Linked DNA regions of Homo sapiens: region 1 is linked to region 2. Evidence: fine-mapped expression QTL. A gene starts in region 2. The other region holds a variant in brackets. All regions are shown on one strand. Distances are from middle to middle. Region 1 holds the start of MIR943 (microRNA 943). Region 2 holds the start of NELFA (negative elongation factor complex member A).

Evidence for each region.
Region 1: its variant is fine-mapped to the expression of NELFA in cerebellum (GTEx, PIP above 0.99).

Annotation. Positions count from the first base shown.
Region 1 is chr4:1,979,046-1,993,785 of GRCh38, forward strand. It overlaps NSD2 (nuclear receptor binding SET domain protein 2), which reads left to right. Exons shown (of 22, transcript NM_001042424.3): 22 at 1-3,147. NELFA (negative elongation factor complex member A) reads right to left here. Exons shown (of 11, transcript NM_005663.5): 2 at 12,499-12,670; 3 at 10,663-10,824; 4 at 8,873-8,962; 5 at 7,227-7,357; 6 at 7,069-7,138; 7 at 6,731-6,819; 8 at 5,763-5,874; 9 at 4,803-5,068; 10 at 4,551-4,650; 11 at 3,678-4,458. The coding sequence ends at 4,274. It overlaps MIR943 (microRNA 943), which reads right to left and starts at 7,432; the gene lies at 7,339-7,432. RefSeq lists an enhancer at 12,763-13,602. The variant G/A (reference allele first, on the strand shown) is at 6,166.
Region 2 is chr4:2,001,456-2,016,195 of GRCh38, forward strand. NELFA (negative elongation factor complex member A) reads right to left here and starts at 7,519. Exons shown (of 11, transcript NM_005663.5): 1 at 7,295-7,519. The coding sequence starts at 7,504. It overlaps LOC124900839, which reads right to left. Exons shown (of 4, transcript XM_047416543.1): 4 at 7,551-8,718. The coding sequence starts at 8,306. The coding sequence ends at 7,551. RefSeq lists enhancers at 7,202-7,702, 7,310-7,829 and a silencer at 7,890-8,269.

The DNA.
Region 1 (14,740 bases), 22 kb before region 2:
GGAGCGCCTCCCCACCACTGAGCCATCCTCAGCAGCGTCCGCTGCGTCTGCACTGATGACCGTCTGAGCCCAGCTCAGCGTTCCTGGACAAACAGCCTCACTCCTCAGCGTTACCGCCACACTTGAATTTCTCCGAATGTCAAGGTTCCCTCCCACTCTATTTTTTTAGGTTAAAGTTAATTGGCATATGGAATGTTTTAATCTCCTCTGAAATGTGTAGCGTAGGCTTTTCCCAAGGGTCGCTAGAAACTCGTCTTCGCGTTGCCCCCTTTCTGGCTCTCAGCGCCGTCGCCACTCGGGAGAGGCTGGGTGAGGCCCGTGTGAGGACTGACCCTGGATTCCTCGAAACTGCCATTGTGATCATTACTCTGCTCTTTGGAAATGGCTGTATCATTTTTTTGTACTAATGTGAATTGTTCCTCAGAAACGCTTCTTTTCCATCCTAGTGAGAAGCTGGCCCTGCAGGTGGTGGCAGCAATGGTGTTGTAAGATTTCCTCCCGTAGTTTTTTCTCCTCATGGATTTGAATGAAATGCCAATAACACGTCCACTTTCAACGTGTAGTTTACGCGGAGCACTTTCGAGGCCTGGCCGGGTTGGGCCTACTTCTCACCTGGGCCTATCTTCTGAACTCGCTAGGTTCTTATCAACATTTGGGGGATAACTTTGTATATTTTTTTCATTTGGCTTTTCTTTACCAGTTTCTGATTTTTATTCTCAATATATTTTTGCTAAACCTATTTCACAAATCACCACCGACTGAAGTGTGTGTTTACTGATGCGGCCCTGAGCTCCATGGCGAAAGGAGTGACTTTGCAGGGCGTGAGACCGCAGTCTGCTTAGAGCACAGGAAGTGACAACTTAGGGAGCCCCGTAGGGCGCTGCAGGCCCCGGGGACCCCAGCACGTGGGTCTAAAGAGAGACGGAGTCTAGCTCTCCTGCCACCCAGAGTGGCTTCCATCTCAGCACTCTGTGGGTCTGGTGATGGAAGATGCAGTCTCTGCTGATCACATGTGCCCTCTGCCAGGGCACCTACTGAGAGGTGCGGTCCTGGGGGTGGAGGCCTGCCTGGCAGGTGTGCGTGCCTCGTACGTGTGTTATGGGCACTGGTCTAGGCCAGGTATGACACCCACTCTCCTGTGAGATTTCACTTTAGTTTTTAAAAGGTCCAGTTCTACAGAGTGAGACCTATCTATCTGAGTACTACATATGTTTTAAGACTTGGTTCTTTTTTTGAGGGATCCTTGACCCTGGGAAGTCTGGAGCACCCTGAGAAGGGGGCACCATGTGTGCCTTTGCCCACGTGTCCTGAGGGGCTGCTTGTCTGGGAGGGAGGGAGAGAACATTCAGCAGCAGGTGCTTTTTTATGGCCTTTTCTTAAAATAACCTAAGGGGGACACATCCATCTTGCAGAGAAGTTTACAGAACTCCCCTTGAAAACTGCTGCTGAGGCTCCTGTTAAATTTTCTGTGGCATCTTTTATGCCTTGGTAAAAACTGCAGTGTCTTTGGACCTGAGAGTGGCTACTCCGTGGTTTTGTGACCTGTAAGCGTGGGGTTCAGGGGTGTGTGGCCCTGCAGGGTCCCACGCCTCCCTGAGCACTGACTGGAAGTTTCACTGGCTGGTGGCTGTCCCTTCTCCCATCAGGGTCCCCAGCAAAGTTAACTACACAGAGGACCCAGGGGAAACGAGCTGTGTAGCCACTGACTTGCTCGCGCGGCCGTGGCCTCTGAGGGGCACTCGCCGGTTAAGACAGGGTGGGAGTAGTGCTTTCCAGTTCAGACTCTAACTTCTCCCAAAGTGTCCTAAGAAAATACTGGATCGGCTCATAGATTTATGCTCCTTATGATGCCCTAACTTGGAAGGTTGTTCTAGGGACAGGCCGGGCAGTGTCCCCACACACACCTTAGAGTCGAAGGCCCCAGGGCCCCGCTGTCACTTGCCCAAAAGATCCCTTCCGGCAGGTAAGGGACTACCAATGCTTACGTCAAAACAGCAGAATCGGCTTTGCAGTGCACTTTGGGGAGCAGATATTAACTTATTTTTGTGTTGGACAGTAGTGAAATCTTGTGATTTTTAATCGCTTTGATAATACTTCCAAATTTTATGATTTTTCTGAAGGAAATAATGCAAACATTTTAAATATGTTTCTCCCCCTTTCCAAAAACTGTTAAACTAATGAGCAAGTAACACTAACTTTGAATGTCTCTACAATACCCGTTGATAACTCAGTGGAGCCAGGCTTTGGGGTAGCGGCCCTGAGCTTGCAGGGTTTCTCGCCACTGGGGCTGACCACGCCCCCAGCTGTGACCGTGGGTGTGGCTGGCTCTCGGCCCTGCCCAGCTTTGTTCTGAGGACGTGGTGACTTCCTGAACATCAGCTTCAATCCTCCATCATTAATGTGAAGCAAAACACAAAAACCGCCCCAATCCCTCAGGATTCCTTGGCATCCGAAACCAGCATCTGCACCTAAACCCATACCCACCCGTGTGCGCCCACAGGGGGATGTGTCCGAATGGGCAGCTTAAAATGTGGTCACCTGTGGGGGAAACTCTTCAGGCACCTGAAGTGAGAACCCAGCTGTCCGTCCTCAGGCCGGCCTTTCTTCCGGCGACACCCGTCCATGGCTGGCTGGGTCCCCTTCGCAGTGTTTGTCTGTCTTGACATCTAAACCCCGGCGTGTGCAGTGCCCATCTTCCAGGACTACCTTATTTTCCAGAATTAAACCTGTTTTATAATTCAAGTTAATGCAAATGACTGTCAGTTGCCAAATATCTTGATCCTATGAGTGTAGTTGATGACTGTTTGTTAGTCAGTAGAGTAAAATGCTGTGTCCACGGGGTGTCACAGCCTCACCATACCCTGTTGAGGTGTGAAATGCCCCGTCAGAAATTAAATACAAACTTAAATGTGCCTATTGGTGTCTAAACTTCATACAATGTAAGGTCAGATTCCTTTTAGGAATACTGGGTGCTGTCACCAGGTTTGATAGTTAGACTTAAAAACTTGAAATTCACTTTTTGGGGGGAGGGATATACTGAAATAGAGAGTTGAGACTTGCCAGTTGGGGGAAAATAGCATTTAAAATGGAAAGCTGTGTTTGGAAAATTGTGTATGAGTATTTTTGTATTAAAAACATTTTAAAGGCTTTTTTCTTAACTTATTTTATATGGGATTGTTTGATTTTTTTTCCAGTTACTTTGAATTGCAAAGCATCGGGTGTGGCACTGATGCCTCCGATGGGTGGGGCTCCCTGTCCTGACTGTGTCATTTTGCCTTTGACCTGACCCGCTGGGGAGAGGCAGTGCCACCTTGGGAAGTATAACAACAAATACTGGAAATAGCAGGCATAACTGACTGACTTTGGAAAAATGCTTTCTTCTTCTTTCAGAAATAATTTGCTTCCCAAATTCCCATTAAGGGTGAAATGGTCTAGAGAGAAGGAAGCACTGCTGTCCCCCAGCCCTGCAGTCGGCTGAGCCGGGTGGTCCCCAGGCCCACAGCCAAGTAAGTCAAGGGAGTACCCCGAGGGCTGATCCTACCTGTTCCCCACCCTGTGGGCCAGGGTGTCCTAGGAAGCCCCCAGCCCTGGCCCACCCCGTCCTGATGGCCGCCTAGGGAGGGACTGGGTCCCCGGAGCAGGGAGGACAAGCTGGCCCCAAACACAGCTATGGTGGCTTTCTTTAGAAAAGCTCGACTTTAATGGTTCAGATAGTTTTACAATGAAAATAGGTACCCAAAGACTGTCTTAAATGTCCACAACTATACAAAAGATGAATACAAAACTCCCAGGCAGGCACAGGCAGGGGACAAGGCCCACCGTCTCCCACGCTCTGGTGTGGTCGGGTGTCCCTGCCGCACCCCCAGTACCACCGTGCCACCTTGGTCCCCTCAACCCTGGGGGTAGGAGGGCACTGCCCCAGCGAGGGAAAATAGAAAAGATTTTAAAAAGTAAGAGTCTAACAGGCAGAGCTGTCACTAAAATTAGGAAGTTGTAACTTTTTTGGTTAATTTACTTACTACATTCAAAAATGTAACGTTGAGTCCAAAAAGTGTCTTAAATCACACAAAAAAGAACCCATATTAAAATTTTAAAAATAAGCCCCAAATACCCCAGAGAAATGCATCCAGAACTTAAAACAGGCTGGGTCAGCAGCAGGGCGGCGGCCGGGGGACCTCGGGGGCCAGGTGTCCGCCATCCGGTTACTTTAAGCTGGCAAAGCCATCGTCCCGTGGACCCCCACAAGTGACGGCCAGCTGTGAGGCAGGTGGTTCTAGGACACATTGGTCATGGGCTTGTACTTCTTGAAGCGCGTCCACTGGCCCGTGGCATAGTTCATCTCAAACACTGTGTCCACCAGCATGGTTGTGCTACCCTGGCCGTCCGCCTTGGGCAGGTCCTCCGTGTGCTCGCTCAGCTTGATCTGGATCACGTCCCCCTGCTCCTGGCACGGGTTCTCTGCAGAGAGCAGGAGCTGCTGGGTGGGTGTCTGGGGGCACCCGCCCCCAACCCGGCCCGGTGCACCCCCAGGCCCTGCCTTATGAACATACCTCGGGAGCCGGCCATGAAGCCCAGGATGAGGGCCTTCTCGGGCCGCGTGACTTTGTTGGCCGTCTTGAACATCTCCTGGGCAGCGAACATCTGCTCTCTCTACAGCGGGGAGAGGGGTGTGGGTGCCAGGGCCCCGCCAGGACCACCTCCTGCATCCCCCTGCAGGCACCGTGGCACCCCCACGCTAGGGGAGGTGGCCAGGGCCGTACCACCTACCTGGTGGCCTGTGGGCCCTACCAGTGTACACCTACCGTGAGGGACAGGTTCTTCTTAGGCTGCTGCTGAGCAGGGGCCTGGGTCTGCGGGGCCACCATGGCAACCGGGGGTGTCTGAGTGGTAGGGGCGACAGCCGGAGGTGTGGTGGGTGTCAGAGGCGAGGTGGGCGCCGCAGGCGTGGGTGTGGCAGGGCTCAGGCCGCTGTTGTACATGGGCGCCCGCTGCTTGAACTGCGCTGGCAACGTGGGGCTCGGGGCGCTGGGCTCCTCTGGTGGGCGGCTGGCTTCCCGGGAAGATGGGGCTGCAAGTAGACCGGGGCCTGGTGAGGGGGCTGGACCCCCACCCTGTTCCCAAACCCTAGTGCTCCTGGAGGTGACAGGCTCAGCTCCCCTTCTCTGTCCTGCTACCCTCTGACAAGAACTCCCTGTGGCCCCCAGCCAAGGCACAGGCCCCAGAAGCCCCAGCCAGAGGAACAAGGCCAGTGGTCTCAGGCCTTTCCAGACTCGCAGATAAGATGTCTGGACTCTGGCCAGCTGCTGGCCTGCAGCAGGTCCCCATACCGTAGGCACTGCTGGGAAGACAGGAAGGCTGTATCCTCAAGCCCCTTGGGCCCAGGACCTGGCCTGAGGTGCTGTGAGCCTGGCAGTGCCCTCCGTCTGGGAGGGGATGGCTCTCAGCTCCCCTCCCGCCTACCCAGCAACAAGAGCTGGGTCACCTGGCAGAAAACCCTTTCGAACCCAATCCCCTTCCTGCCGTGTCCCCTGGGGCCGCTGCCTGTCTGTGCCCAGGACGGGCAGGGTGGGGCAAAGCAGCTGGTTTATGTCTTGGAGCTCAAGCTGAACAGCGGGGCATCTGCCCCCAGCAGATTCTGGCTGAGGCAGAAGGGGGACAACAGAGATGCAGGAGTGAGAACCGCAGCCCTGGCAGCGCCCGTGGGCAAGGTCATGTCCTGGCAGGCAGCTTGGCTGGTTCCAGGCTGGGGCCAGCAGACTCACCTGGGGGCGTCTCGGAGCTGGGGATGTAGGAGGAGGCGGGAACCACGCTGGGCGTGGAGGGAAGGTAGCTCGTGGAGGGCAGCGCAGGCTCATTGTTCAGGGACCCAAGTTTCTGGAACACAGAGTTTAAGGTTCCTTCCAGAAGAGGCCATGCTTCCGGCATGTGCTAACACATGGCCCGACCCGGAGCTCCACTGCCACAGGCTGTGGCCCCCCGAGCTAGAGCAGGAAGGCGGGGGCCACTCTCCCGAGCTCCCTGGGCTAGACAACGGGACCCCTGGCCCCTGGCGCCCCAGCAGAGTTGGGGACTGAGCCGCTCCTGTGTAGGAGAGGGGAGGGGTTGAGGAGCCCAAACAGCCCATCTTGAGCACAGAAGGAGCGATGCTTTTTCTTACCACGAAGC[G/A]TTGATATAAAGGAAGATGCTCATGTTAAGAAACACAGAACACGCAGCGGCGGGAAGAAAGGAGCTTATTATCCTGAAGTGACCCCACAGTGTGGCCTCCTCCAGGCCCTGGCCTCAGACGACCCACTGCAGCCTCTGTGCACCTGCCGCGCCCCGTGGCTGCCTCCCACCCGCAGGCAGGGCCTGGTCTCCGGGACACTGAGGCCTCTGACCACCCAGCACCCCCACAGGCCTGTCCTGCACCCATTCACGGCCACGTGCAAGGCTTAGGTCCCACCAGCCCTGCCTGACGGGACACTGAGGCACAGGGTTGAGGAGGACTCCCCTGGCAGCCCCTCCAGCAAGCGTGGGGCAGGTTCCCGCTCCAAGCCTGAGTCAGATGCCCATGTCAGGGCACGGCCCACACTGCCTCTCATGTACATATACGTATATATACATAAATACAGACTGCACACATATGTACATACATATATATATTCTCCGACAGAGCACACTAGTGGCCACAATCGGAACAAAAGGGGCACCCGCAGTGGTGCCAGACATGGGGTGCAGCCCCGAGCCCTACCTGCGTGGACACCAGGCCGGCTGCGTAGTCCGGGGTGGCGTTCTCCACCACCGTTTCCTCCTTGGCCGGCTTCTCCACCACCTCCGCATCTGTGGACAAAACAGGAGTCCTCGCCAGTGCCCGGGCGCGTCTGCAGTGTCAGCTCAGGGCAGCGGCAGGGAATCAAACAGCTTCCCAGGGGAGGCCACCAAGGAGCGAGGAGAAAAGCAGGCACCCACCCACGGAGAGCAGCCTCACGGGGCACAGCCCTGCCCGCCGAGCGTGGGCACAACCCACCCCAACTGGGCAGGGCCCGCAGGGACCCCCATTGCCGCCGACACGCAGGCCCCAACCCCCACCGAGAGTCTTCCTTCTCCGCTTCGCCTCTCGGCCAGCGCCAACCATATCCAGCTCAGAGATGTCCAGCAGCTGCCAAGACAAGCACAGCCCTGCCTTAGTGACGGCACCAGGGCGCAACGGGCCCCGGGGTGCCACAGGAGCTGGGGGACGGGCCTACCTTCACACCTCGTTCCTTCCGCAGCAGCGTCCTGGAAGGCGGGATGGGGGTCCGGTTCCCTGTGGGGCTGAAGACGCTGGGCGCCGTGGGGCTTCTGAAGGGCGCCTGCTTCGGGATGCCTTTGAGTGGGGCTGGAGGACGGCAACAGTCAGGGCGCCAGCAGCAGTGACCGGCAAACGTCCCCCACCCCGAGCTCAGAACGTCCCACCCTCTTCTAGGCTAGCGCCGCAGAGGGGAAGGGCCAAACCCCTGGCGGGCAGCGGGCAGGACCCCCAGGATCCCGGACCTCAAGGAGCAGGGGAACGCCTGGAGCCACGACCTCACACTTTGCCAAGACACCAAACAAAGACAGCGGCACCCCAGCCCAGCCACAGGATCTCACCAGGTGGAGTCTCTCACCAGTGTGGCGGGGGCTGAGCTCTGCCTCCTTCCTGTGCCTCCACCGGCAGGGGCATGAAGCCAGGCGCCTGGGCTTGAGGGCCGCCCTCCCAAGCCTTCTCCCCGTCCCCTGAGGACACTCCTGAGGCCTACCTACGCTGTTACCCACCAGCGCCCACACGCACCCTCCAAGGCGTGCGTGGCTCTCATGGTGCCAGGCCCGGAGAGAGGACGCCCGGGGGATGGTGCCATCAGCACACCGGGCCAGGCTGGACACACTGCTCAACGGCTGGCCCACCCTCCCTGGGCCAGCAGGTGCAGCCCTGGCCCTGGGATGCCTGGTGGGGGTGGAAAGACAAGGGTCTGCTCCAGGCGGGGTAGAGGAGAGCAAGGTGGAACCTCGGCTGCGGTGGGCAGGAACATGACCCAGGGACGGCCCCCCACACAGCGACAATAGTCAGCAGACCCAAGATGCCTTCTACTAGGTCCCATGTGAACACTGTGGGATTATGGGAGCCCAAATAAACTAAGCCAGGCTGGTCTGGGAGCTGCATGGAGAGCGCCTGTAAGGCTGCCCTTTCAGCCCCACCCATCTGCAAGTTTACCCAGCTGTCTCAGCACAGGACGACACCCGTCCTGCCCTCTGGCCCCCAGGTCACTATCCAGCACCCTCTGGGGTGAGTATGCCCTGCCATGGTTCCCAGGGGCACGCCGTCTTCCTGTGATCAGGGTGCATCCTGCTTAAGCTCACGCCCAGCCCTGAGAGCACAAATCAGGAAGGGCAGATGGAGGGGTGCGGGGGGCACAGCCCCACGGGCAGCTGAGCACGGTCACGTCCTCCCCGCGGAGCCGCCCAGGGACACTCGGAACCCAAGAGCAGCACTTGGGGCCGAAAGCCCGAGCTGGGAAGGCCGAGAGCCACCGGTGCCAACAGCAGAGGAGCAGGGGCCAGCACTGTCCTCAGATCCCGGCCTTCCTGTCTCCATGCCCAGCGGTGTCCTCAGATCCCGGCCTTCCTGTCTCCGTGCCCAGCACTGTCCTCAGATCCCGGCCCTCCTGTCTCCGTGCCCACACATCCTCCCAGGGAGCTCCCCAAGGGGAGAAGCCGGTGAAATTGCCCCAGTGCCTTCGCTTTCCCACGGGCTCCCAACACTGCTGCCTGAAGACCATTCACAGGCACCACCTCCCCAACAGGGAGCGGGTCTCCAGGTGAAGCCCTTAGCTCTGCCCCAAAAGCAAGGCTCACGGCACCAGGGTGGGGGCCTTACTGGTGGTGTCCATCTTCCGCAGCAGCCCCCGGCCCTTGGCGTGGAAGGGCACCCCGGCGCTCCGCTTCAACTGCTGGGCGGTCTCCGTGGCTGGAAGGAAGAGGTCACATATGTCAGGGATCCTCAGAGCGAGAGCCCTTGGCCCTTGTAAAAACATCTCTGTCAAGTGGATTCATCCGACGGCCTGAGCCGTGAACGCTGCATTCTCTCTAAATGAGCAGCTGTTCCGAGCCGGGCCTGACACCAGCTCGCACTTTACAACGAGTCAGAAACTCACTCAGGTGAGCAAGTTTCGGGAGCTGGGTGGCTGTGGCTGCACCTCCCAGGACCCCATGGCAGGGGGGAGGCAGCCGAGGAGGAGCTGAGGGACCTCATGAGCCCTCTCCATCGACCCGGGCCTCCCCCTGGCCCAGTGGTAGCACCGTCCTCGCTGAGGGTCAGCAGGCACGGTCTAGATACAAAAATATGAGGAAGAAACAAACGAAGAGATATTCCTGACTTGGTTCAGTGTGGCTGAAGGGTCAGGGGACACCGAGTGCCCAAAGCAGACCCTGTGGCCACTGCTGGCCTCCAAAGGGGGTGGGGCCCAAGGGGCCAGCAGAGTCCTTCCTGGGCTACCCAGTGGGCCCGGGGCTGCACGGAGCCTCCCGGACAGCGCTGGGCCCTGGCTGCTGCCCGTTCCAGCCAAGATCCATGCACAGCTGCTGTCAGCCTTTTATTTGGATTCTCTGGAAACGGGGTATTGATGTACATTATAAATATTAATTCCATAACCATTCAAAATAAAACGATGTTATTGAAATCTTTGTCGTGCTTTGGGAAAACGTTAACTGAAATGATTAAATATCTTTCAAGTGGAATTGAGATCACCCGCCACTCCAGAAGGCAGCAACGTGAGAGTAAGGAACGTGCCCCTCCAGCCATTCACCCTGGCACCCACCGTGCCCAACAGCGTGACTCAGCTGGCACAGAGTTCATTTGGTCACAGAGATTAGAGATGCCTTCACCTAAAATTCTGAAGTTGGTGGGTTTTTTTTTTTTTTTTGAGATGTTGTTTCGCTCTTGTTGCCCAGGCTGGAGTGCAGTGGGGCAATCTTGGCTCACTGCAACCTCCGCCTCCCAGGTTCAAGTGATTCTCTTGCCTCAGCCTCCCAAGCAACTGGGATTACAGGCATGCACCACCACAGCCAGCTAATTTTTGTATTTTTAGTAGAGACGGGGTTTCACCATGTGGGCCAGGCTGGTCTCGATCTCCTGACCTCAGGTGATCTGCTGGCCTCAGCCTCCCAAAGTGCTGGGTTTACAGGTGTGAGCCACCATGCCCAGCCTAAATTCTGAAGTTTTTAAAGCATGTTTTCAGAACATAAAGTTTAATATAGTGATAAACTTCTAACAAAAAACTTTATGCAGAACTTTATCTTCTTTTTCTTGAGACAGGGTCTCACTCTCTCCCAGGCTGGAGTGTAGTGGTGTGATCACAGCTCACTGCAGCCTCAACCTCGTGGGCTCAGGTGATCCTCCTACCTCAGCCTTCCGAGTAGCTGGGAGCACAGGCACGCACCACCATGCCCGGCTAATGTTTTGGTACTTTTGGTAGAGATGGGGTTTCTTGGCTGGTCTCAAACTCCTGGGCTCAAACGACCCACCTGCCCCAGCCTCCCAACAGGTGTGAGCCACCATGCCTGGCCCAGAACGCCACCTTGAAGGGGCAGTCTTGGTACCTTAGAACCTAAGAAACCTATGACTGGAAACTACAAAGACAATGCCCGATGGCGGCCGCGGCCACTCACACTTCTGCAGCAGCTCCGCCCGCAGCGTGGCGCTCTTGGGTTTCCGCTTTAACTGAAAATGCTTCACCGGGGGAGTGAGGGGTCCCGCGAGGGTCGTCAGGGCGTTTTTGTTCAAGTACTGGCACTCCAGTGGCAGCATGGCAGACGCTTCACACTCACCCACTGCCGGTAAGAACCACATGAAGTTAGGGGCGCCCAGGCCGCAGACCTCCCGGCTGAGAGGAGCTGGCGGCTGCCCAGCCCCACACCCTCCTCAGTTAGGGTTAGGTCATGGGAGCTTCGGCTGTCCCCTGAGGTCCTCGAGACTGACTCCCCACGGCTCCAGCAGAACACCCAGGAGCATTTGCAGAACAGGAATGCCTGAGAGGCGGGCATGCCTTGAGAGGGCTGTAAACTGGAAACCTCTGGCACCGCGGACACCAAGAACCACAGGCGGACATAGATACAGTGATTCCTGGAGGGCTCCAGACACTTGTAGAACATGAAATGTTAACAGATCCCACCCCCACGTAAGAAGGACCCCCGATCTGTGGCTTCTCTCTTCCCGTCCCCGAGGGTAGCCAGGCTGGTGGTCTCTCCTGGAACCCTGGCCCTCATCCAAACTGCCCACATCCATTTCCTCAGCCTGTGTGCTCACCCACGGTTCAGATCCCAGAAACTGCCCCACGAGGGACAGGCGACCTCCCACCTGAACTGGCTACGTGCCCCACCTGGAGAAAAAGCACAGGCAGGCACATGAGAGTTCACCGGCCTCAGCCTTCCTGCCCGCGGGACACTCCTGAGACACGAACGGGTGGGGTGGGGTGGACCTGTCCAGACCACTGCTCCAGAGGCATCTGTGTGGTGTGTGTGACCTCACAGGTGGGGAGAGGTGCCACTTGCAGGGGGGTGGCCAGCAGGGCCCCTGCAGGAGTGTGCAGCCTCGATGTCTCCATCCCACAACCCTGTCTCTCTGGGTGCTGCCCTTGAAGGAGCTGGGGCACAACGTTTGGGCTCTGAGGAGCCAGTTCCAATTGTCCAAAGCAGGAGAGAAACTCAGAAAAGCACAAGCATCAAGCATCCCATCAAGACATGTTCTTCAAATCCATCTACAAATAGTTGTTTCTTTTAAGAGATACATTCTCACCCTGTTACCCAGGCTGGAGTGCAGTGGCGCGATCATGGCTCACTGCAGCCTTGGCCTCCCAGGCTCAAGTGATCCTCCTGACTCAGCCTCCCAAGTACCTGGGAGGACAGGCATGTGCCATCACGCCCACCTAATTTTTATTTTTTGTACAAATGGGTTCTTGCTATGTTTCCCAGGCTGGTCTCGAACTCCTGGGCTCAAGCAATCTGGCCATCTCAGCCTCCCAAAGTGCTGGGGTTACAGGAGTGAGCCACGGAGCCCAGCCTTGTGAATATTTTCTAAGTGACTTTCAGTTCACATTTAAACAACTAAATCGTTGATATTTTCAACATGCATTTCTGAGCATGTACTCTGGGCCAGGGAATGCTCTGGGCCCTAGAACCTAGGATCTACAGATACCACCTGAATGGGCAGAGCCCCTACCCTCACGGAGCCGACCAGAGAGAGACGGCGAGTGGCGTGACACAGCCTCCCACTGACACCGCAGCAGTGAGGATGGGGCCTGTGGGCTGTTTGGAGTTTGTTTTCAAAGATGGCAAAAGCCAGGCAGCAGCTTACGGGGGAGGATGGTGCATATACAGTTAATATTCTAGGGACCAGGACACACGGAAAAACGTAAAGGTCTAAAAATCAAATTCATTTCAGAAAAAAATTTTTCAAGAAAGATCCATTTCCCTCCACCCAACATGAATTAAAGCAGCACAACATACCCTTTTCTCTAAGTTCTCCCAAAATATCCTGAACGTTGGGATTCTGCTCCTCCAGCTCCAGGTTAAGCGAGCCTGTGTCCGGAAAGGACTTCAAGATGTCGGCGACCATGAGCACCCAGGGGTCCGAGTCGAGGCTGGCGAGCTGGATGATCTCCATTAGGGCGCCCTTCATCTGCAAAATAGGATGCTGCCGGCGCCACCATGCCCCTGCCCACTTCCAAGCCCACTCCCTGCTGAGCTTCCGGATGGGCACTGGGCAGTGGCCGGGCTCTCTGGCAGTTGCCCCCAACACTTCCTCCTGAGGGCTCCCCTTCCTCTGAGCCCCCCGCCTCACCCCAGGGCCACCTTGCTTCCCTGAGCAGCACAGCCTCTGCCAGGTTGCAAGGCCCCGGCATCCGGTGCCCTCCCAGCAGCCTCCCACCTCCCAGCAGCACCCAGTCCACTGGGCCTACTCTTCCACCGGTGCGCAGATGCAAGAAAACCTGAAGGGTGAGAAGCCGGGGCCACCACTGCTCCCGCAGAAAGCCTGCGGGTGGGAAATCCTGGGGATGAGGGGCGTAGAGCAGGCAGGTGCCCGGCACAGCAGAGCGCAGGAGCAGGGTGGAGTCACCTGCCGCGGGGGTGTGTGCCTGGGCAGCAGGGGGTGGGGCCTGGGACCTGGGGCAGCACCCGTGACAGCTGAGCTGGTGCCTAGTCACCATCTAGGCAGGGACGGCTGCCTCTGGGTCTGGACGGCGCTGGGAGTTGGCGCTCGTGGAGCCTGGAGGTGGCCCCGGGATCTGGAGTGAGGCCAGGGCCTTGGGGAGGCCATGGGCGACGTGCGTGGAGGAAGCAGGCGCACCCCGTGCTCCCTCAATACCTGGGAGGCCAGATCCATCCACACCAGGGCCTGCTTCGGCCACATAAACCCCCTCCCACGAGGAAACGCAGAGAGCCAGGCCATGGCGTGCCTGTGCCTCTGCCATGCGCCCACTGGGCTGCTCACAGTGTGAGACAGCTGGGCTGGCTGGCGCTGGGGGTGAACAACAGCGCCCTGCCCTGTCCAGACGCCGGGGCTGAAACCCCAGCCCCAGGCCTTCCTGACACCCACTCCCTGCGTCAGGCGCCAGAGACCCGTCCTACGAGGGCTGCGGCCATCACGTCCCCGCGAGCGCCGCCTCCTGGTGGCCTCTGAGTGGGAGGACCTTCCAGCGCTTCCCTCACTGTCCTCATGGGCTTCCTGCCCTGAGGGAAGTTGGCTCGAAGGGCAGAGATCAGAGGTCGTGCCAGGGGAGCCTGCCTGCTGCCAAGCCCCTCTGCATCTGCCCTGCAGGACACCCAGCTGCCCTCAGGAGTCAAGAACCCCCCGCGTGGCCCAGCCCCTTCTGTTCCTTGGGCAACCAGGGAGGGTGTCGCCCCGGCCGCTGACCCTGCGCCCCGGGCCCTCACTCCCGACGCCCGCCCGAGCTGAGTGCGCGATGCGGCAGAAGATGCTACGTGGCTGCAGGAAGCGCTGCGCACACGCTGCCTCTGGCAGCCGCACAGCCCGGCTGTTTCCAGCCAGTGCGGCCTCTCCACAGCAGCCCCAGGGAAACCCTACGCCTGCCAAGAGGCAAGCGCGCGGCATTTTATAAAAATGGTAAGGATAAAAAAAGTCGGGGATGTTAATTTAAAACAAAAAGGACCACTGTTGTGGAGTCAATGTTTTCTCTCCAGAACGCGCATGTTGAAGCCTGGCTCGCTCTACTGGGGCTTCTTGTAGGAAAACGCTTGGCTTTCCCGGGCGCGGTAGCTCATGTCTGTAGACCCCGCACTTCGGCCGGCAGAGGCGGGCGGCTCACGAGGTCAGGAGTTGGGGACCAGACTGACCCACATGGGGAAACCCTGTCTCTACTAAAAATACAAAATTAGCCGGGCGTGGTAGCGCATTCCTGTAATCCCAGCTACTTGGGAGGCTGAGGCAGGGGAATCGCTTGAACCCAGGAGGCGGAGGTTGCGTGAGCTGAGATCGCACCATTGCACTCCAACCTGGGCAACAAGAGCGAAACTCCATCTCAAAAAAAAAAAAGAAAGAAAGAAAGAAAAAGAAAAGAAAGAAAGAAAAAAGAAAATGCTTGGCTTACACACAACAGAAATTTACTTCTCACGGTTCTGGAGGTGGGAATCCAAGATCAATTAAGGCGCTGGTGGATTCCCCGCCTGGTGGGGGCCCCTTCCAGCTTCATGGAAGGTGCCTTTTGCTGGTGGAAGGTGGGAACGAGCT
Region 2 (14,740 bases):
ATACAAAATCAATGTGATTTTAATAGGCAAGCAGAGAGCCAAATCATGAATGAACTCCCATTCAAAATCACTAGAGAATAAAATACCTAGGAATACAGCTAACAAGGGATGTGAAGGACCTCTTCAAAGAGAACTACAAACCACTGTTGAAGAAAATAAGAGAGGGGCCGGGTGCAGTGGCTCACGCCTGTAATCCCAGCACTTTGGGAGGCTGAGGCAGGCAGATTACCTGAGGTCAGGAGTTTGAGACCAGCCTGGCCAACGTGGTTAAACCCCATCTCTACTAAAAATACACAAATTAGCCGGGCGTGGTGGCACAAGCCTGTAATCCCAGCTACTCGGGAGGCTGAGGCAGGAGAACTGCTTGAGCAAGGGAGGCGGAGGTTGCAGTGAGCCGAGATCGTGCCACTGCACTCCAGCCTGGCCGACAGAGCGAGACTCTGTCTCAAAAGAAAAAAAAAAAGGCCAGGCACGGTGGCTCATGCCTGTAATCCTAGCACTTTGGGAGGCCGAGGCGGACGGATCATGAGGTCAGGAGATCGAGACCATCCTGGCTAACACGGTGAAACCCTGTCTCTACTAAAAATACAAAAAATTAGCCAGGCATGGTGGCGGGCGCCTGTAGTCCCAGCTACTAGGGAGGCTGACGCAGGAGAATGGCGTGAACCCGGGAGGCGGAGCTTGCAATGAGCCAAGATCGCGCCACTGCACTCCAGCCTGGGCGACAAAGCGAGACTCCATCTCAGAAAAAAAAAGAAAAAACAGAAAATAAGAGAGTACACAAACAAATGGAAAAGCATTCCATCCTCGTGGATAGGAAGAATCAGTATCATGAAAATGGCCATACTGCTCAAAGTAACTTACAGATTCAATGCTATTCCCAACAAACTACCATTGACATTCTTCACAGAATTAGAAAAAACTATTTTAAATTTCATATGGAATCAAAGAAGATCCCATATAGCCAAGACAATCCTAAGCAAAAAGAACAAAGCTGGAGGCATCACGCTACCTGACTTCAAACTACACTTACAAGGCTACAGTAACCAAAACAGCATGGTACTGGTACCACAACAGACCTACAGACCAATGGAGAAGAACAGGGACCTCAGAAATAACACCACACATCTACCAGCATCTGATCTTTGACAAACCTGACAAAAACAAGCGATGGGGAAAGGATCTTCTATTCAGTAAATGGTGCTGGGAAAACTGGCTAGCCATATGTAGAAAACTGAAACTGGACCTCTTCCTTACACCTCATACAAAAATTAACTCAAGATGCATTAAAAACTTAAATGTAAAACCCAAAACCATAAAAATCCTAGAAGAAAACCTAGGCAATACCATTCAGGACACAGTCACGGCCAACAACTTCATGACAAAAATGCCAAAAGCAATAGCAACAAAAGCCAAAATTGACAAATGGGATCTAATTAAACTAAAGAGCTTCTGCTCAGCAAAAGAAACTATCATCAGAGTGAAGAGGCAACCTACAGAATGGGAGAAAATTTTTGCAATCTACTCATCTGACAAAGGGCTAATATCCAGCATTTACAAGGAACTTAAACATATTTGTAAGAGAAAAACAACCCCATCAAAAAGTGGGCAAAGGAGGTGAACAGATACCTCTCAAAAGAAGACATTTATGAGGCCAATAAACATGAAGAAAAGCTCTACGTCACTGATCATCAGAGAAATGCAAATCAAAACCACAATGAGATACCATCTCACGCCAGTCAGAAGGGTGATTACTAAAAAGTCAGGAAACAATAGATGCTAGCGAGGCTGTGGAGAAATAGGAAGGCTTTTACACTTTTGCTGGGAGTGTAAATTAGTTCAACCATTGTGGAAGACAGCATGGCGATTCCTCAAGGATCTAACACCAGAAATACCATTTGACCCAGCAATCCTGTTACTGGATATATACCCAAAGGAATATAAATCATTCTGCTATAAAGACACACGTACAGGTATGTTTACTGCAGCACTGCTTAGAATAGCAAGGACATGGAACCAACCCAAATGCCCATCAATGATGGACTGGATAAAGAAAATGTGATACATATACACCATGGAATACTACGCAGCCATAAAAAGGAATGAGATCCTGTCCTTTGCAGGGACATGGATGAAGCTGGAAGCCATCATCCTCAGCAAACTAACAAAGGAACAGAAAACCAAACATTGCATGTTCTCACTCATAAGTGGCAGGTAGTTGAACACTGAGAACACATGCACACAGAGAGGGGAACAACACACACCAGGGCCTAATAGGGGTGGGAGTGAGGGGAGGGAACTTAAAGGACGGGTCAATAGGTGCAGCAAACCATGGCACACGTATACCTATGTAACAAATCTGCATGTTCTGCATATGCATCCTTTTTTTTTTTTTTTTTTTAAAGAAGAAATAAAGGCCGGGAGCAGTGGCTCATGCCTGTAATCCCAGCACTTTGGGAGGCCAAGGCAGGTGGATCACAAGGTCAAGAGATGGAGACCATCCTGGCCAACACGGTGAAACCCCGTCTCCACTAAAAATACAAAAATTAGCTAATTAGCTGGGCATGGTGGCGCGTGTCTCTAGTCCCAGCTACTCGGGAGGCTGAGGCAGGAGAATCCCTTGAACCTGGGAGGCGCAGGTTGTGGTGAGCCGAGATCGCGCCACTGCACTCCAGCCTGGCGACAGGGCAAGACTCTGTTTCAAAAAAAAGAAAAAAAAAGAAGAAGAAGAAAAAAGAAAACATTACATTAAGTGAAAGAAGTCAGGCACAAAAGACCAGATGTATGATTCTATTTATATAAAATATCCTGAATAGACAAATCTATAGAAGCAAAAAGTAGATTACTAGTCACCTAGGAGTGGGGAGGAAGAGGACTGGGCAAATGCTAATGAGTGTAGGATTTATTTGGGGGATGATGAAAATGTTTGAAAATTGACTAGCATGACCATCAAACCTGTAAATATACTAAAAACTACTGAAGTGTACATTTTAAATGGTGAACTACCTGGCATAATTATATGGTACATAAAATAATATCTTTTTTCTTTTGAGACAGGGTCTCATTCTGTCGGCCAGGCTAGAGTGCAGTGATGCAATCATGGCTCGCCGCATCCTCAACCTCCCAGGCTCAAGTGATCCTCTCGCCACAGCCTCCCAAGTAGCTGGGACCACAGCCATGTGCCGCCACCCCTGGCTAATTTTTATATTTTTTATGGAGACAGGGTTTCACCATATTGCTCAGGCTGATCTCGAATGCCTGGGTTCAAGCAATCCGCCCATCTTGGCCTCCCAAAGTGCTGAGATTACAGGCATGAGCTACTGCACCCAGCTATACATTATATTTTAATAAAGCTTTTTTTTTTTTTTTGGAGACAGAGTCTTGCTGTCGCCCAGGCTGGAGTGCAGTGGCGCGATCTCAGCTCACTGCAAGCTCTGCCTCCTGGGTTCACGGCATTCTTCTGCTTCAGCCTCCCTAGTAGCTGGGACTACAGGCGCCTGCCACCATGCCCGGCTAATTTTTTTGTATTTTTTCTTTAGAGACGGGGTTTCACCATGTTAGCCAGGATGGTCTCGATCTCCTGGCCTCGTGATCCGCCCGCCTCGGCCTCCCAAAGTGCTGGGATTACAGGTGTGAGCTACTGCACCCAGCCAATAAAGCTATTTTAAAAAAATTCATGATTAAAAGATTTTTTTTTACAAGTCTTCTAAGAAGAGAATTTCCTTAACTAGATAAAGGGTATTTATTAAAGACAACAGGAAACATAATGCTCACTGGCAAAACATTCCGAGTTCTCCCTGTGTGATCGGAGGTAAGACAATGAGCTGGAGGGTCCTAGCCAGTCCAGTGAGACGAGAAAAAAAACAAAAGGTAATTGGAGAAAGAAAAATAATATGAAGTGCACAGAAAAATCAAGGAGATTCTATAGAAAAAAAAAATTTTGCAACTAGCAAAACTTTAGCACAGATACTAGTCACAAATTCATTATCCAAAAATCAGGCTGGGCATAGTGGCTCACCTGAGGTCAGGAGTTCGAGAGCAGCCTGGCCAACATGGTGAAACCCCATCTCTACTAAAAATACAAAAATTAGCCAGGTGTGGTGGTGCATGCCTGTAATCCCAGTTACTCGGGAAGCTAAGGTAGGAGAATCACCTGAGCTCAGGAGGAGGAGGTTGCAGTGAGCTGAGATCGCGCCACTGCTCTCCAGCCTGGGTGAGAGAGTGAGATCTCCGTCTAAAAAACAAACAAACAAACAAACAAACAAAAACAAAAATCAACGCATTTCTATATACCAGCAACAAGTAAAAACTAAGACTTTAACAGATACCATTTACAACGGCATGGAAAAATATGAAATAGGTGGTAATATATGAGATGGAAGACCCCTACAGAGATCACAAAGAACATCTAAATAGATAAGCCCACACCCACAAATTATAGGATGCAATATAAAGAGGACAGCACCCCAGAATGAACTGCAAGTTCAGCTCAGCCTTAAAATCCCAGCAGGCAGGCTCTACGTGTTTAAGAAGTAAGTATATAAGATACATGTGGAAGTGTGAAGGGACAAGAATAGCCATAGATGATCCCGGAGAAAGATACAGTGGGAGGGTTTGCTCCGTCCGCTAACAAGGCTTATAAATAAAGTGACAAGAACCGACTTAGTGGGTTATTAGCACATCGATATGTAAATGACCAAAAGAACAGAGCACAGCCCAGAAACACATCCACAGCAGAAGCTGCAGTGCAGATCAATGGAAAAGGACAGTCATTTCAATCAACGTTGGGTGCTGGACTAATTGCACATCCATGTGGAAAATTAGACTCCCTGCTTCACACAATCATCAATTCCACGCAGACTGAAGATTCAAGTGCGAAAGGTAAAACTGTACAGCTACGCCAAGATAACCCAGGGAGTGTTCCGGGCATGTCCCTCGGGGAGACACAATAGGCACCAATGATAGTGGGCGGATGAATACACCATCTATGTTAAAACTAGGAGCTTCTATTCATCCATGATTCCAGGAAAAGGGCTGGGCGCACAGATCACACCTGTAATCCCAACACTATGGGAGGCCAAGGCAGGAGGATCACTTGAGGCTAGGAGTTCAAGACCAGCCTGGGCAATACAGTAAGACCCCCATCTCCATACACATGCACAAAAATTAGCCAGGCGTGGTGGCAGCGCATCAGTCCCAGCTACTACAGAGGTTTAGGAGGGAGGACTGCTTAAGCCCAGGAGTTCAAGGTTAAAGTGAGCTATGATTATACCACTAGACTCTAGCCTGGGTGACAGAGTGAGACGCTGTCTCAAAAAAAAAAAAAAAAAAAAAAAAAAGGATTCCAGGAAGCTAAGTCAAAGTCAAAGGACAACTGGGAGATATTTGTAACTGAAAAAGGACTGATATCTAGCATTTATAATAAATAATAAAAAAGACACTCTTACAAAACAATGGGAAAAAAGAGAATTTAAAAGCAGATTTGAATATACAATTCTCAAAGCAGAAAACCAAACAGCAGGCCGAGTGCCATGGCTCACACCTGTAATCCCAGCCCTTCAGGAGGCTGAGGCAAGCAGATTGCTTGAGGTCAGGAGTTCAAGACCAGCCTGGGCAGCATGGTGAAACCCTGTAGTCCCAGCTACTCAGGAGGCTGAGATGGGAAGATCTGAGGTGAGGAGGTCAAGGCTGCAGTGAGTCACGATGGTGCCACTGCACTCCAGCCTGGTTGACAGCGCCAGACCCTGTCTCAAACAAAACACAAACACAAAAACAAAACACTCTGAAAAATAATTTGGCATGATCCTATGATCCTCACAATTCCACTCCTAGATGTTATACCCTAGAGAAATCCAAGATTCCAAACACCTGAACATATGACCGTAATGTAGTAACGGGATGATTTACAAGAGCACAAAAGCTAAGCGTGTCACTGTGGCAGAATGGATAAAGTGCCTCGTGCTCACAGACAGGAATACCACGCAGCAGTGAAAATTAAACTGCAGTCAGCTGCAACGTGGATGAAACTGTCACGGCGTCGACCAAAAAGACACATGCACGCCACACACAAAATACACTATGATACCATCACACTAACTCCAAATCCGGCAACCAAGCTGTGCCATTTAGGGGTGCATAAATAATTGCTCACACCGGGGAGATGGCACAGAAATGATTACCTTTCCAAAATGAGGAAGGGGAAAGGAAGAAGGCCGTGATTACCAGTGGGAGGCTTCCAAGGAACAGGCATGGTTCTACTTCTCCACCTGTGTAAGGATCACAGGAGTGGCTCGCGATGCTATTATTATTCGTTAAACTGAACAAAAATGCACTTTTCCATACATGTCATATCTCAATCAAAAGCAATTACAACCTATAATAGCTAATAATACATCAGTAGCCAGGAACGTTTAAACAACCATGGGGCTTCAATAGTCTGCAAAACTACTCGGTTTATTTCGCACGGAAAGCGATACAATATAAAGTTTAGGAAAAAAGAAAACAAACCTCACACACCCACTTATTGGAATGACGCAAAACGGCGTGTAGAAAAGAGTAAAACGGACACAGAGCGCTCCGGACGGCCGGGGTCTTTGCGAGGTGAGAACAAGAAAATCCAGTCAGCGGACACTGGAGCTACCGAGCCCAGGCCGCCCCTTCCTCACGCGGGGGTTTCTCTCGGGATCCCCGCCCTCGCCCAGGTCACCAGGGCTGCGTCCCCGACGGGAAACCCCGATGGGAGACCCCGCTGGGGCCGGCGCACCCCCGCTCCAAGAGTCGGTCGCTTCGGCACGGTGGGGGATTAGGGTGGTGAGGACCGAAGGCGGGGGAGGCGGGGGCGGGTGGGGATGAGTACCCGGGGGCCCAGGGAGGGGAGTGAGGACCTGGGGGTCGTAGCGAGAACCCGGGGCCCGGCGGGGAGGAGATTGAGGATCCCAGGGGAGGTGAAAACTTGGGTAGGGGTGAGGACGAAAAGTAGGGAGGTGAGGACCCTAGTGGGGGATTCCCAGGGGGCGAGGAGGGGCGGGGGGTCCTGAAGACCCACGGTGGGGATGAGAACCGAGGTGGGAGATGAGGATCGAGGCGGGGGATGAGGACCCAGGGGGAGGTGAGGACTGGAGGGAGGTATTCGGAGGAGCGAGGAGGGGGCGTGAGGGCGGGCCGGGGGGGTTAACAGTCTGAAGGGGGATGGGAAGGTTGGGGGAGGGAGCGAGGAGGGTCCGGAGTTGGGTGTGCGGGTCGGAGGTGGGAAGGTTGGGAATCTGGGGGCCGCGGGGCGCCACGCCTGCCTTACCTCGTCCACCGTGCGGCGCGGGAGGTGCAGCGTCCCGAGTAGCAACTTGAGCTTCACTGCCGACGAGAGGCCATGGAAGCAGAGACGGATGTTGTCGATGACCGCGGCCGTGAGCAGGGACGCGATGCTGGGCGGCGCCCACAGCTCGTCCGTGGCCCCCAGCTTGTTGTGCAGCCACAGGCCCGTGTCGCTCTCCCGCATGGACGCCATCTTGGGGGAAAGCGCGCGCCGCTGCCCCGGCATCTTATGAAGACACCTACGCGTCCCTCGCTAGGACCCCAACATGGCGGCGCCCGTCGGGCTGCGGGCCGCAGAGGCGGCGCAGGTGGCGCGGTCCCACGAGCGGGGCTTCCCGGGAGAGCGCTTCTGGGTGGCGACCGCGTCTCCGGGTAGCGGCCGCGTCTTCGGGAAGCTTTGTGGCAAAGCCGAGAGCCGGAAGGACGGGGTGCCGCTGAGCAAGGACTATCGGCTTCCGTAAAACATCATGGCGGCGCCCTCTGCTGGCTCTCGGGAAGACCGCAAAAAATGACGTCACGAGCAGGCGCGCGTATTCGCGTCTTGGGAGCCCGGGCTGCGGCCTGGCATTCGCAGTGCAGGTGTCAAGCGCCGCAGACTTGCTGCTCGCGCGGTGGGGCGGAGGCTCCCTGTGGCACCTGCCCCGCTGTCCGCTCTTCGCTTTTTCCCCGCTTGGGTCTCGGCGCGGACCGTGTGGACGCCCCGCCCCCGCGGGCCCAGCACCTGCACGGAGAGGAGCCGCGGCCCTGCGGAGCGAGCCTGCGGGATCCCGGTCGCAGCGCTGAGCTTCCGTCCCCCGCTGAGCCCGCTCTGCCCGTGGCGCGCCGCCGACGGGGCTGCGCTGAGCATGCGGGTCGGAGGGCGCTCGGGAGCTGTCCAGGGGCACTCGTGACCCCACAGTGCAGGGAGGCCCCGGCCCCCAGTCGGGCTGGAGCCGCCAGGCAGGAGCCAGTAGTGAACTTTTCAGTTTTAAAAGCTTGTCATTAGATACAAACATGAGTAAAAGTTAAACTTCATTTTATTAAATTCGTTTTACCCTTTTGTCTTTTTGACGAGGCCTTCCTATGTTGGCCAGGCTGGTCTCAAACTCCTGGGCTCAAGCGATCCGCCCGCCCGCCTCTGCCTCCCAGAGTGCTGGGGTTACAGGTCGGGGCCGCCTTGCTTGGCTTCTGTATTATATCTTTTTTTTAAAAGATCTTTTCCTTATTGTTCCACTGCCATGCTCCTGCCGCCGTTCACAGCTATTGCCACTGGGCGGTGGGAACGCCGGGAGAACAGGGCTCAGCCCAGCTGCTAGCAGTGCCCTGGCCCTGGCGGCTTGAACTTGGCAGTCCTGCGGAAGTCACACGGGGGAAACCCGCAAATGCTACAAATCAGTGCTGGAGCGGTGGTTTTGTTGATTGCTTAAACTGAAGAAAGTGATAGAGAAAATGTTGATGATAAAGATTAAACTTAAAACTGTCATGTCGACAACCGTTACATTGCAAATAGCACATAAAATTTAAGAGAATATTTTTTAAATGATTCAAAAGTGTCGAATTCAGCAAAGACAAGTTATTGACTAATGGGTGAAGTTGTGACATCAGTGGGGCTAGTGCTGAAAGAAGTTTAATGATTAGGCCGGTCACGGTGGCTCACGCCTGTAATCCCAGCACTTTGGGAGGCCAAGGCGGGCGGATCACCTGAGGTCGGGAGTTCGAGACCAGCCTGGCCAGCATGGAGAAACCTCGTCTCTACTAAAAATACAAAACTAGCCGGGCTTGGTGGCGCATGGCTTGCCTGTAAGCCCAGCTACTCGGGAGGCTGAGGCAGGAGAATGGCTTGAACCCGGGAGGCGGAGTCTGCGGTGAGCCGAGATTTTGCCATTGCACTCCAGCCTGGGCCACAAGAGCAAAACTCCCTCTCAAAAAAAAAAAAAAAAGTTTAATAATTATAATCTGAGGGTAAGAAATAGTTTAACAGTGGACGACATATCAAATTTAGTATGAGAAGAGTGAAAGTTACTTCAAGTTGTGAAATCATGATTGAACCGTAAACATTAGTTGGTTGAAATGAAAATTTTTGTTCACAGAAACCTGTGTGCAAACGTTTATAGCAGCTTTATTTATAATAGCCCCAAACTTGAAACAATCCGAATGATTCTGACCCCCAACTGTCTGTAGCTTTCTGTAGGATACGCAGCACTTTTCTGTATACAGTGCTTGATGCATCTTGAGTCTTCAGTTTTATGCAGGAAAAATCCAAGTTAACATCTGGCTTAACCAAGAAGACAAACCACTAGGAGGACTTAGTTACAGCATCAGAAAGCAATGGATTAATATTCAGAATGAAAAAAGGAATGCTTGTAAATCGACGAGAAAAAGACCGACAATAGACAAATGTGCAGAAGATAAGAATAGGCAATTCACAGCCTGGCCATCATAGTGAAACCCCGTTTCTACTAAAAATACGAAAACAGTGGGGCGTGGTGGTTCATGCCTGTCATCCCAGCTACTCAGGAGGCTGAGGCAGGAGAATCGCTTGAACCCAGGAGGCAGAGGTTGGAGGGAGCGGAAATCACACCACTGAACTCAGGCGTGGGCCACAGAGCGAGACTCTGTCTCAAAAAAAAAAAAAAAAAAAAAAGCAATTCGTAGGAGAAACCCAAATACCGGAGAAGCACATGGAGAGATGCTTAAATTCATCAGCAACCTGACAAACCCAAATTAAAATAACAAGATGCCTCATTACACCTATCAGATTGCAAAATTAGAAAGCCAAAGTTTTTTTCATTTTAAAACATGGTATCCAGTTGTTCCCATATTATTTGTCGAAATGACGATCCTTTCTGGACTTTTCTATCCTGACTTACTCATCTATCTTTATGCCAATACCAGACTGTCTTGGTTACTATAGCTTTCTAAAATAAGTGTTGAAATCAGGTAGTGTTAATTCTCTGACTTTTTTTTTTTTAAAGTTATTTGGGTTATTTTAGGTCCTCTGTATTTCCTTTTTTTTTTTTTTTTTTTTTTTTTTTTTTGAGGCAAGGTCTGGCTCTGTTGCCCAAGCTGGAGTGCAGTGATGCAATCTCAGCTTGCTTCAGCCTCTACCTCCTGCGTTCAAGTAATTCTCATGGCTCAGCCTTGCAAGTAGCTGGGAATACAGGCATGCACCACCAAACCTGGCTAATTTTTGTATTTTCAGTAGAGACGGGGTTTCACCCTGTTGGCCAGGCTGGTCTAGAACTCCTGACCGCAAGTGATCCACCCACCTCAGCCTTCCAAAGTGCTGGGATTACAGGTGAGCCACAGTGCCCAGCCTGCATTTCCATATAAATTTTAGAATCGTTTGTCAATTTCTACAAAAAAAAAAAAAGGCTTCTGGCATTTTGAGTGGAATTGTGTTGAATCTGTAGGTCAGTTGAGGGAGAACTGGTAACTTCTGTCTAGTGAACATAGTATTTCTCTCTGTTTATTTGGGTCTTTAAATTCTCTCAGCTAGGCTCATGGCTATGTAATCCCAGCACTTTGGGAGGCCGAGGAGGGTGGATTGCTTGAGCCCAGGAGTTGGAAACCAGCCTCAGTAACGTGGCGAAACCCCATCTCTACAACAAATATAAAAAGCTGGGCTGGTGGTGCGCCTGTAGTCCCAGCTACTTAGGAGGTTGAGGTGGGAGGATCACTTGAGCTCAGGAGTTCAAGACCAGCCTGAGCCACATGGTGGGACTCTGTCTCTAAAAAATTAAAAATAAATTAAAAAATAAATTTTCTCAGCCCCATTTTGTAGTGTTCAATGTAAGGGTCTTGCACATCTTTTCAGAATTGCCTCCAAGTATTGCATAACCTTGATGTGGTTGTAAAGGGTGTTGTTTAAAATTTTTAATTTATCAGTGTTTGTCGCCAGTATATAGAAATACAACAGATTTTTGTGTGTTGATTTTGTATCCTGCAGCCTGGCTAAACGCATTTATTTGTTCCAGTAGTTTTTTCATACATTGTATTAGTTTTCTGCAAAGACAATCATGCCATTTGTGAAGGCAGTTTTATCTTTTTTTCTAATTTATTTGCCTGACTCTGCAACATAAAGAGTCCTTATTTTGGCTGGGCATGGTGGCTCACATCTATAATCCCAGCACTTTGAGAGGCTGAGGCAGGCGGGTCACCTGAGGTCAGGAGTTCGAGACCAGCCTGGCCAACATGGTGAAACCCCATCTCTACTAAAAATACAAAAAATTAGCTGGGCGTGGTGGCAGGCGCTTGTAATTCCAGCTACCCAGGAGGCTGAGGCAGGAGAATCGCTTGAAACCAGGAGGCGGAGGTTGTAGTTAGCGGAGATCGTGCCATTGCACTCCAGCCTGGGCAACAAGAGGGAAACTCCATCTCAAAATCGAGACCAGCCTGGCCAACATGGTAAAACCCCGTCTCTACTAAAAATACAAAAATTAGCTGGACGTGGTGGCAGGCGCCTGTAATCCCAGCTACTTGGGAGGCTGAGGCAGGGGAATTGCTTGAACCCGGGAGGCGAAGGTTGCAGTGAGTTGAGATCGTGCCATTGCACTCCAGCCTGGGCGACCAAAGGGAAAAAAAAAGTCCTTATTTTTACTTTAAAGCAATAAATTTTACAACTTTACTGAATTTCTAAAAAAAAACCCTAGTGGTATTTTGATTGGCTTTCCATTGGGTTTGTAGATTAATTTAGAGAGAACTGACATCTTTATATAGTATATGATACACAGACAAGCTTTCATTTTTCTTTCTTTATGATCTTCAGTAGACGTTACTATTTTTCTCCATACAGTTTTTTTTTTTTTTAAGAGAGGGTCTTACTCTGTTGCCCAGGCTGGAATGCAGTGGTGCGATCTCAGCTCACTGCAGCCTCCGCCTCCCAAGCTCAAGCGATTCTCATGCCTCAGCCTTTCAAGTAGCTGGGACTACAGGCATATGCTACCATGCCCAGCTAATTTTTGTGTTTTTCTCTTTTTTGATATAGAGTCTCGCTCTGTTGGTGAGGCTGGGGTGCAGTGGCGCGATCTCGGCTCGCTGCAACCTCCGCCTCCCGGGGTCAAGCAATTCTCCTGCCTCTCACCTTCCCTAGTAGCCTCCGCCTCCCGGGTTCAAGTGATTCTCATCGCTCAGCCTCCTGAGTAGCTGGGATTACAGGCATGCAACACCAAGCCTGGCTAATTTTTGTATTTTCGGTAGAGACGGGATTTCACCATGTTGGCCAGGCTGGTCTCGAACTCCTGATCTCAGATCCGCCCACCTCGGCCTCCCAAACTGTTGGGATCCAGGTGTGAGCCACCACACCCAGCCTATTTTTGTGGTTTGTTTGTTTGTTTAGTAGAGATGGGGTTTTGCCATGTTGGCCAGGCTGGTCTCCAACTCCTGGCCTTGAGTGATCTCCCCGCCTTGGCCTCCCAAAGTGCTGAGATTATAGGAATGAGCCACCACGCCTGGCCAGTTCTTTCTTACTTATTTTTTTTAGAGATAGCGTCTCACTCTTGCCTAGGCTGGAGTGCAGCCGTACAATCTTGGCTCACTGCAGCCTCATAGCTGAGACTACAGGCGCGTGCCACCATGCCCAGCTAGCTTTTGAAATTTTTGTAGAGATGAAGTCTCACTATGTAGAGATGACGTCTCAAACTCTTGGCCTCAAGCAATCCTCCCACCTTGGCCTGCCAAAGAGCTGGGATAACAGGTGTGCACCACCGCGCCAGGCCTCATACAGTTCCTAATCATTTTCATTAGCTTAACTCAGATGCCTTAGTGTATTTCATGCTCTTATGAATGATATCCTGTATTCTATTTTCCAGTTGGTTATTATGAATACGAGAAATACTATTTTTTAAGTTGGACATACATCCAACAACCTTTATGGACTCCTATATTTATTCTAATAGTGGGTTGATTTAGTTGGTTATTCTGAATATTTCATTTACAGACAATGACAGTTCTGTGTCTTCCATGTATATTTATACTTTTCCTTTATTATTTTTTTGGTATTGGCCAAAGATTCCAGTCCTGTTGAACATTAGCAGGGCAGTAAGAATCCTGTTGTCTTGCTTTCAGTCGTAAAGGTATATGTCCAATTTTTTTTTCACAAGGCAGGGTCTTGCTATATTGCCCAGGCTAGTCTCAAACTCTTGGGCTCAAGGGATCCTCCTGCCTCTGCCTCCCGCCTCTGCCTCCCAAAGTGCTGAGCCTCCACACCTGGCCCATGTCTAAATTTTATCCATGAAATAATCTAAGTTATTAGTGGATCACCTTTGTCCACTTAAGGAAGTTTTCTTGTTTCCTTTATGTTCCAGAGTTTTCATCCTAACAGTGTTTCTCTTTAAGAAAAATGAGCTTTTCCGCATCTGTTGAGAAAATCTCACGCTGCCCTTCCTTTAGGCTATGAATGTGGTGCCCAAGGTCATGATAGGATCTCTGATGTTCAACCGTCCCTGTGCTCCTCAGAGGAGCCTTACTTGTCAAGATGAATTATCTTTCAGGGCCAGGGCCCGGGCAAGGGGAGAGAGCTGAGGGAGGCTTAACAGGGGTCAGAACACTCAGCCATCACAACAAATGGTATTTGAATGCAATATTTTAAAAACTCAAAATCAATGCCAGAAAAAATCAATGATAAACAACATACTGAAATTTTAAACAAAGACAGATAGTAACAGTGCCATGTCAAGCCATATTGGAGCTGAGGCAAGAAAACCAATCAGTGATACTGATGCTGTCTTCATTTAAAATTTTATATTTTGTTCACCATAGTTTTTTTGCATGAGTTTTGACTCTTTAAGGTAGTGTATTAAAATATTTACCTTTTAAAATATTTTTTCTTTTAAATTATTTTCCTTTTATAGGAGCTACTAATTGAAAAATATTTATCTTAATAACTATTTTGGAACCTCCTGAATATTTTGCCCAAAGCAAGTGCTTCACATACGTCACCCTAATCACAACCCTGTTTCTCTTAATTCGCTGTGAATTTCTTTAAAATTTGCACCTCTGATTATGAGTGAATTGTCCTATAATTTTATTTGTATATATTCATTTTTATCTAGATTGGGAATTATGGCTTTCTAGCCTTTTATTTATTTATTTGAGACGGAGTCTTGCTCTGTCGCCCAGGCTGGAGTGCAGTGGCACGATCTCCGCTCACTGCAAGCTCCACCTCCTGGGTTCACGCCATTCTCCTGCCTCAGTGTCCTGAGTAGCTGGGACTACAGGAACCCGCCACGACGCCCGGCTAATTTTTTTTTTTTTTTTTAAGTAGAGACGGGGTTTCACCGTGTTAGCCAGGATGGTCTTGATCTCCTGACCTTGTGATCCGCCTGCCTCAGCCTCCCAAAGTGCTGGGATTACAGGTGTGAGCCACCGTGCCCAGCCTAGCCTTTTAAATAAGTTGGCAAGACTTTTCATCTATTCTCAGCAGCTGTGTAAAGGCAGGAGTGACCTCTCC